2 separate regions of the Homo sapiens genome follow, and region 2 is linked to region 1. A link means that fine-mapping ties the variant in region 1 to the expression of a gene that starts in the linked region. Tissue or cell type: whole blood. Region 1 holds a variant in brackets; the other region holds the start of a gene. All regions are shown on one strand. Distances are between the middles of the regions. Region 1 overlaps BCL2L1 (BCL2 like 1). Region 2 holds the start of BCL2L1-AS1 (BCL2L1 antisense RNA 1).

Region 1 (4,387 bases):
TTTTCCTTCTTTTTTTTTTTGGAGACGGTCTCGCTTTGTCACCTAGGCTGGGGTATAGTGGTGTGAACATGGCTCACTGCAACCTTGACCTCCTGGACTCAAGTGTTTCTCCCATCTCAGCCTCCCGAGTAGCTGGGAATACAGGTGCGAAACACCACACCCGGCTAATTTTTGTATTTTTTTGTAGAGACAGAGTTTCGCCATGTTGCCCAGGCTGGTCTCAAACTCCTAAGCTCAAGCAATCTGCCTGCCTCAGCCTCCTAAAGTGCTCAGATTACAGGCATGAGCCACCACACCTGCCCTTTTTTGCTTTTCAATTAGTGAGTCAAGGGGAGATCTCCAATATATCTCCAATAGTGTGGTGGCTGGTCTGCTCTGAAATGTAAGCAGTTTTTTTTTGTCCCCTTGACCAGACTCTAAAAGTCTTAAGGTCAAAAAGTCCACAAATAACGTTTTGTTTACCCATCCTACAGTGCTAGGCCTAAGCCTCGGACTTAGGCAAAGGAGATCAGAAGGGTCATATGGCTAAATGTAGGTGGACAAGAGGGAGTCGGGGAGGGCCTTCCTGTGAATCCTCCTGCCTCTCAAGGACGCTCTGTTCCCTTAGCTTGAGAAGCCTTGAGGAAAGCTTTTTCCATGAACAAGCTTTTAAAAACCTTTTAGCTCTTTAAAAGCAGCAAGTACCATTCCAGTCATGACCCTGCAGACAGGTGGAACACCCATACTCCAGCCTCATTCTGAAGAGACTTGCAGAGCAGGAAGGAAGGGGTAATGACTTTCAGTTCCAGTAATGTATCTAGAAGCAGCAGCTGATTCAGCTAGATGATGTCACCTTCCCAAACCTCCTGACCAGCAGCTGAGATGGTAAAAGCAGGAAACAGGGGATACTCAGCTGGCTAAGTCCGAACATGCCTCTGGCAAAGGCCTACAGTAACCCCAGGCTCTGGAGGCATCCTCCTGAAGATGAGGAGAAAGAGTCCTCTCAGCTGGGAGTACAGTAGGTGTCCTTCAAGACCCTCAAACCAAGATGCTTCTCCAACTCTCCTTTTGCTAAGCAGCTTTCTGCATATCCTGAACCAACAATCCTTCATTTATTCCAAGAGTGGAGCAGGGGAAAGAAGCCTGGCTTTAGAGCCAGCCCAATCTAGGTCCAAATCCAGGATTCACCACGTAAAGCTGCAGGACCCTGGCATGCAACTTCACTTATCCAAACCTTAGTTTCTTTACTGGAAAAGAAAGTAGGGCTAATGGACCATTTAGCACACAGTCTAGGTGAGGGAATTAAATGAGAAAATGCATGTAGAGTACCTGACATGGGCTAGGTGCTCAATAAATGGTAGTCAACCATTATCCCATTGGATCTCTGCAGAGGAGATTTGAAAGATCACCTCCATCTATAACACAAAAGGAAACAAAGGTACCAACTAGACCCAACAGTGTCAAAGCTGAGTAACTGAGTTGGCCCATGCATATAGTTGCTTCCTAGATATTCCATTACTCAGTTTCATTTTCTGTACAGCATTTAACCCAATCCCTGAAATAATCTTGTTTGTTTCTCGGGCTAGCTGTCTCTCCCATTAAAGTAAGAGTTCTACAAGAGCAATGTCCTTGACCTTATCTTGTTTATCTTAGCATCTTCAGCATGTAGCACAGGGCCTGGCACATAGTTGGTGCTCAATAAACATTTGCCGAATCGCCAAATGAATAGCACCTGGGATGGCCAAAAGCTAAACTGACAATGGCCCCACACTTAACTCCTCCCCTCACTATTAGTTGAAGGCTCTGGCTCCCATTTCAGAAGCTGCCATTGCCACCTGGGAATCAGCAGCCCAACCAGTGGCCAGCATGGGCATTAGTCCCTGGGCACGACCTATCTATTGGGATACCAGGGCTGCCAAGGAGGGCCTTGGAATCCTCCCCCTGGCACTTGAAGATCCTACAAACCTGGTTCTAGCTGACCTTTTTGGCTTTATTACCTAATGAAAGAGACCCCTCCACATATGCCTAAAATTTGACTGCCACTGCCCACGGGTCTCTTCTTGAGAGTTGGTCTCAGCCTGCAAATCTTAACCCACATTGACTCTCCTACTGGGAGCTACAGCCCCTCTTTTCTCCGCTTTGTGGTAAGGCTCGGTGTAAACCTCACCTCTTCTGTGAAGTCCTTCCCTCATTTGGCATTTAGCATTTATTGTTGGCTTTTACAAGATCTCCTTTCATGTATATTATGTCTTTTCTCTCTAATTCAACTGGAAGTATCTTGAGAGCAGAACTGGGTTTCCAATGGCAATATCTCAATTAATAAACCTTCTACAGAAAAGACTCCTTGAAACAAAGTTAGCTAGGTCCAGAGAGGACTGGAGAGGGGTCTAGGCTCCTCCCTGCTGGACCAGCCCCTTTGGCAAAAAGAGGAGATCGTGTTGCCTCAATCCAGGAGCCCAGCTGATGAGGCAGGAAGGGAGCCAGCAAATCCTAGACTATTAGGTGCAGTC[T/G]GGGACAATCCCAAGGTCATCTATGTAATTAGATTTTTTTTTTTTGGAGACGGAGTCTTGCTCTGTCGCCAGGCCGGAGTGCAGTGGTGTGATCTCAGCTCACTGCAACCTCCGCCTCCTGGGTTCAAGCGATTCTCCTGCCTCAGCCTCCTGAGTAGCTGGGATTACAGGCACGCGCCACCACACCTGGCTAATTTTTTGTATTTTAGCAGAGACAGGGTTTCACCATGTTGGCCAAGACGGTCTTGATCTCCTGACCTCATGATCTGCCCACCTTGCCCTCCCAAAGTGCTGGGATTACAGGCGTGAGCCACCACGCCCGGCCTGTAGTTAGATTTTTAAAAAACCATCATTTTAAATGAATCTGGGCAATATTTAGTTATAAAGAATGGCATAAAAACTGCTCAGTTCAAAGGACTTTTGTAACATACATTTGTGTGAACTAATTTTACTTTTGGCTCGTCTTCTTACCCATATTTTCCTTTCACCCGACTCCCTTAGCTACATTATCCTTTTGGTTGTATGAATTTTCCTAAGTTGCTTCCAACTCTTTGTAAAACAGAGCAAGGTTCCAATAAAAAATAAGATTGGTCCAGTTTTCTTTTAAGTGGTACAGTGGTATATATAAAAAATGATGTTCCAAACAACTCATTATAACAATTAAGAATAAGTGGCAAAAATAATGCATGTAAATCACTGAATACAGTGCTTGGCACTTAATGAGCATTCAAAAGTAGGATGAAAGAACACTATTAATTCTCATTAGCTTCTCTTCTCTGGGCCTCAGTTTTTTCATGTCTTAGGTTTTGTTCATTTGTTTAATAATTTATTCAAAAAGTATTCACTGAATGTTTACTACCTGCAAAGAACAGCTGCAGACACTGGAGATACAATGATGAACAAACCAAACGCCCTATAATCATGGGGCTTATATTCTAATAGAAGAGACAGACAAAAACAAGTACACAAACAAAAAGAAAATTCCAGGTAGAGGCTGTTGCTATGACAAAACTACAAGAAGACTGGAGAGGGATTTAGAAATAGCATGGCTACTTTAAACTGAAGGTCAAGGAAAGTCTCTCAGAGGAGGTGACCAGCAAGCTGAACCAAATGTAGGCCTCAGAAAGGAAATACTAGGGGCAGAACATTTCAGGCAGAGAAAAGAGCAACTACAAAGGCCCTTGGGCAGGAAGAAGTTATGCCAGGATCCAGAAGCAGCAAGGAACCCATGCGGCTTGAGTGGAGTAAGGGAGAGACAGAATGATGGAGGGGCAGCCAGGACCAGATCACACAGGCCTCAGAGGTTGGTAAGAAGTCTGGGTTTTGCTGGGTGCAGTGGATCACACCTGTAATCCCAGCACTTTGGGAGGCTGAGGTGGGCAGATCACGAGGTCAGGAGTTCGAGACCAGCCTGGACATCATGGTGAAACCCCATCTCTACTAAAAATACAAAAATTAGCTGGGCGTGATGGCAGGTGCCTTTATTTTTTTATTTTTATTTTTTGAGATGGAGTTTTGCTCTTGTTGCCCAGGGTGGAGTGCAATGGTGCGATCTTGGCTCAACACAACCTCCGCCTCCCAGGTTCAAGTGATTCTCCTGCCTCAGCCTCCTGAGTAGCTGAGATTACAGGCATGTGCCACCAAGCCTGGCTAATTTTGTATTTTTAGTAGAGACGGGTTTCTCCATGTTGGTCAGGCTGGTCTCGAACCCCCAACCTCAGGTGATCCACCCGCCTCAGCCTCCCAAAGTGCTGGGATTACAGGGGTGAGCCATCGTGCCCGGCCAGTGGGCACCTTTAATCCCAGCTACTCAGGAGTTTGAGGCAGGAGAACCGCTTGAACCCGGGAGGCGGAGGTTGCAGTGAGCCGAAATGACACTTACTGCACTCCAGCCTGGG
Region 2 (4,387 bases), 26 kb before region 1:
TTTGAGCAGGTTACTTCACCTCTCTGGTCCATGGTGTCCTTGCTTTTTTTTTTTTTTTTTTTTTGAGATAGCCTCTCACTCTGTTGCCCAGGCTGGAGTGCAGTGGCATGATCTTGGCTCACTGCAACCTCAGCCTCCCAGGTTCAAGCAATTCTTCTGCCTTAGTCTCCCAAGTTGCCTGGGATTACAGGCACCCGCCACCACACCTGGCTAATTTTTTGTAATTTTAGTAGAGGTGGGGTTCCACTATGTTGGCCAGGCTGGTCTGGAACTCCTGACCTCAGGTGATCCACCTTCCTTGGCCTCCCAAAGTGCTAGGATTAAAGACATGAGCCACCGCACCCAGCCCTTACTTGTTAACAGTAATAAAATACTTTAGGAGCTGAGGCAGGAGGATTGCTTGAGCCCAGGAGTCTGAGACCAGCCTGGGCAACACAGGAGGACCCTGTCTCTACAAAAAAATTAAAAAAAAAAAAAAAATTAGCTGGGTGTGGTGGTATGCATCTATGGTCTCAGCAACTCAGGATGCTGAGGAGGATCTTTGAGCCTGGGAGGTCAGGGCTGCATTGAATCATGTTTGGGGCCACTGTACTCCAGCCTGGGCAACAGAGTGAGACCCTGTCTCAAAAAAACAAAAGATAAAAGCAAAGAAACAAAAAACTATTATTATGACAGCTGACCATTACCAAACATTTCAGTGTTTCACCTGTGCTGGGCACTGAGCTATAAAGCAGTCTATGCACACTAGGCCATATTTCCCAATTACATGTACAATCATCATATTCACTTGAGAGATTATTTTTTGTCCTGTCTCCCCCACTTGACTGTGTGTGGCTCTGTCACCTGTATCTCTAGAACCTGGTGTGCTATACTTGGAACACAGCAGATGCCATTCTAAATAAATCTATTTTAGAAGAACAAATGAATGCTTTCATTTGATCCTCATAACATTTATCAATAGCCCCATTTTACATATGTGAAAATGGAGGCTCCAGAATTTACCCAAGATCCCTATCTAGGAAGTGGCAAGAGTAGGATCTGTCTGAGTTCTGGCCTCACACCATTCTTTTTCTTTTAATCTATCCAAGATAGTACTTCATTCACACTCATTCTGATGTCCAATCTTGCCATCTTAGACCCTGCTATCTCTACCCACAGAAAACCTGACTTCCTTAGTGACTTCAGCAGCAGCGCACACTTCCTGAGCACATACTCTGTAAGGTACTCTTCTTGGTTTTTTTGTAGATTAGTTCATTAGTTGTCTCTACACTCTGTCAGTGGGTACTACCATTAACCCATATAGCTGATGGATATGTGGCCCACAGATGATCTGTGAATTGCTCAAGGCCATGTAGTGAGCTGGTGACCTAACTGGGATGCCTACACCAGCAATCTGGTTCAGTGCCTTTACTCCTAACGTTGATGCAGTACTCTGCTCAGTTTCTAAAGGACAATCATGGGCCAGGTCCATGTACTTCTGTGGCTGAGGAAGGCCTTCATTCTAAGTCCAGGTAACCTGAGGCTCAGAGATACTGAGACCTAGCTAAAGTGGATAAGTGGCAGCTAGCTGTGATGGCTCACACCTGTAATCCCAGCATCTTTGAGAGTTCAAGGTGGGCAGACTGTTTGAGCTCAGGAGTTCGAGACCAGCCAGGGCAATATGGTGGGACCCCCATCTCTATAAGAAAAATCTTAGAAATTTAGCTGAGTGTGTTGGCATGCACCTATAGTCCCAGCTACTCAGGAGACTGAAGTGGGAGAATTGCTTGAGGCTGGGAGGTTGAAACTGCAGTGAGCTGTGACAGCACCACTGCACTCCAGCCAGGGCGACAGAATGAGACCCCGTCTCAAAAAAAAAAAAAAAAAAAGGGAAGCCATTTTTAAGCCCCAGTATGTTTGGCAGCAAACCCCATATTCTGAGCCAGGGCCATGGCCCTGGGTCTGTCAAGGAGGGTAAAGTAGCCTGAGGCCATCAGCTGAATGAATAAGCACTGGCTCCTGCCAGCTGAGGGGAACTGGTGCCACAGGAAAAGGATGTGACGAAGACCAGGAGGGAAAGTGAAACCCTTCCGTCCTGGCTTCAGTGAGGAACAAGCATGCCTGTGCCAGACGAACCCTTCCTTCCTCTTGGGTGACTCTGGAGGGCCCAGGCCCATTGCTTCCTTCCTGCTTGGTTATTTCAGGAAAGAGGTAGGTGGAGAAGAGGAAGAGGCTACTAGCAGCCAGGAAAAGTGCCAGGGACACCAGAACTGTACCTTGTTCTGTCCTTCTCACATCCCTGCATTGGCAGGCTGTGAGTCACCTGCAGAGTCACCTTATGCTCCTGGCCTCAGTTTCCCTGAGGGAGAGGCTGATAAATGTGTGCTGAATAGACAAACATGGCCTTGCTAGAAGATCGCTGGGAGATGGTAGGAAGGGGGTAGGGCAAACGGAGAGGCCTTATCACTCTTTTGGCAGGGAGTTGCAGGCGGAGACTCGGAAGAAGTGAGGTTTGTGGTTGGAATCCACTTCCTCTGGTTTTCCCAGGGGAGCTGTTGGCTCCCGAGATGTGAGAAGAACATGGCCTTTCTCCTCTCCCCCACGGAAACATAGGCCTGGAGGTGGGCAACTTGGAGAAGCAGCTCAGTGGAGGCAGGGCAAAGAGAGGGGTGGCAAGACTGTGTTGGGGTCAACACCTCAGTCCAGCCGGCCCAGGTATGGGTGGGTGCCACAGCAAGCCTTTTGGCTTCTGAGCCTCAGTTTCTCCTGCCTTGACCTCCCTAGCAGTAGTGGTGAGATCAGGGGGTGTCATAGAGGGCTCAAGCCATCTGGGCTATAGGGAATATTTGGTGGTATCCTCACAACAAACTTCATGTTTATCTTCCTCCAACTCTGACCTGTTCAATTCAGCTGCCAGCCTCTCCTCCTCCACCTCCTCCCCCACCATTAGTTCTAAGAAGCTGTGCCTGACAGATGCACTTGCATTTCTCAGAAAAGGAAGCGGTTGTGCCGGGAGGAGATAACACCTCCGCTGGGGAATCGAGAAAGCTATCAGGCCTAGCAGTGCGAGTGTGGGCTCTCCATCTCTCTGGCTCAGAACCAGGGTGATGGGCTTGGGGGCAAAGAGAGAGAATTCAGAAAAGCATTTACTGGGGGCAGAGATGCTCATTTGGGGGCTCATAACCTCCTTCCCTGGAACCGATGGAGATAAAACAGCTGATGTTTACTAAGTACCAGGCATGGTGCTAAGTGCTTCGTGTGTAAAGAATTTGCTTAATCCTCACAATAATCCCACCGAGTACATGCTGTTATTACTCTCCAGCTTACAGATGAGGAAACAGAGGCAGAGAGGATAAATCACCCTCCCAAGGTCACAGAGGCCACAAGTGGTAGAGTTGGGATTTGAATACAGGCAGTCTGTCTCCAGAGTCCAAACATTTAACTGTTCCTGGGTGGCTGCTATGTGCTCATATAGGCTCATCCCCTGGGATTCCGATGCCTCCCGTCATCTCAACTCTCTCATTTCAACCCTGGTGACTCCCTATTCTTTCGTAAGTAGATGGCCACAGCCCTCCATTCTTCTCCCAGTGTCCAGGGTGAGAAAAACCAATACTCACCCTTGGAACAGAGTCGGAGACTCCAGGGACCTTACAGCATGCCCATCCAACCTTCCATGTAATACTCAAGCTCACCACGAACACCCCCATTTCACAGACAGGGTTCAGAAGGGTGGAGTGCTGAAGTCCCACAGTGGGTCTGTTTCATTCTGATGGTCCACACCCATGGGAGTTGGTAGTCATCTCGAGGGCATTCTCTCCTTATGCACTTATGGAGAGCTCCCTCCTTCCTGGGTGGGACATTTCATCTTCGGACAGCCCCGTTGGAAAACTCTTCCCTGTCAGGGAGCTGATGCTCGTCTCCCTCTGTCTCCCTTGACTGGCTGGTCTTAGTTCTGCTCTCTCTCCGCTGCTGCTCTCCTGCTCTCCTCCAAGTATCAGTTGTCTCATTTGTGAAATGGAAGTGCTATCTGGATAAAGGCAATTAATTTCTACTTCTCTACCAAGCTGGGCTGCCAGAGCACAGAGCAGGCAGAGAACCAATAAGTCTTGCAAACTAGATTAAGATATTTTGCTTTTGACCTCATCTGTAAAATGCGGATTAAAAAAATCCTTATTTAATTTTTTTTTTTTTTTTTGAGACAGAGTCTCACTCTGTCGCCCAGGCTGGAGTGCAGTGGCACAATCTTGGCTCACTGCAACCTCTGCCTCCCACGTTCAAGTGATTCTTCTGCCTCAGCCTCCCAAGTAATTGGGACTACAGGCATGCACCACCATGCCTGGCTAATTTTTTTGTATTTTTAGTAGAGACTGGATTTCACCATGTTGGTCAGGCTGGTCTCAAACTCCTG

The links. PIP is the estimated chance that this variant, and not a neighbour inherited with it, causes the effect. A credible set is the group of variants that fine-mapping cannot tell apart.
Region 2: it holds the start of BCL2L1-AS1, and the variant in region 1 is the best candidate, but not a certain one, in a credible set for the expression of BCL2L1-AS1 in whole blood (INTERVAL, PIP 0.65).

The regions. Positions count from the first base shown.
Region 1 is chr20:31,698,538-31,702,924 of GRCh38, forward strand. The region is part of intron 2 of BCL2L1 (BCL2 like 1); the gene reads right to left. All of the region lies in intron 3 of BCL2L1-AS1 (BCL2L1 antisense RNA 1), which reads left to right. Among named protein-coding and RNA genes, the nearest start is that of BCL2L1, 22 kb to the right of the region's middle. RefSeq lists enhancers at 1-464, 848-897. The variant T/G (reference allele first, on the strand shown) is at 2,490.
Region 2 is chr20:31,673,026-31,677,412 of GRCh38, forward strand. BCL2L1-AS1 (BCL2L1 antisense RNA 1) reads left to right here and starts at 2,083. Exons shown (of 4, transcript NR_187576.1): 1 at 2,083-2,190. All of the region lies in intron 2 of BCL2L1 (BCL2 like 1), which reads right to left. It overlaps LOC124904883 (a long non-coding RNA gene), which reads left to right. Exons shown (of 3, transcript XR_007067559.1): 3 at 1,159-1,222. RefSeq lists enhancers at 710-4,054, 1,869-1,918, 1,939-1,988, 2,321-2,615, 2,586-2,685 and 1 more and a cis regulatory region at 2,986-3,003.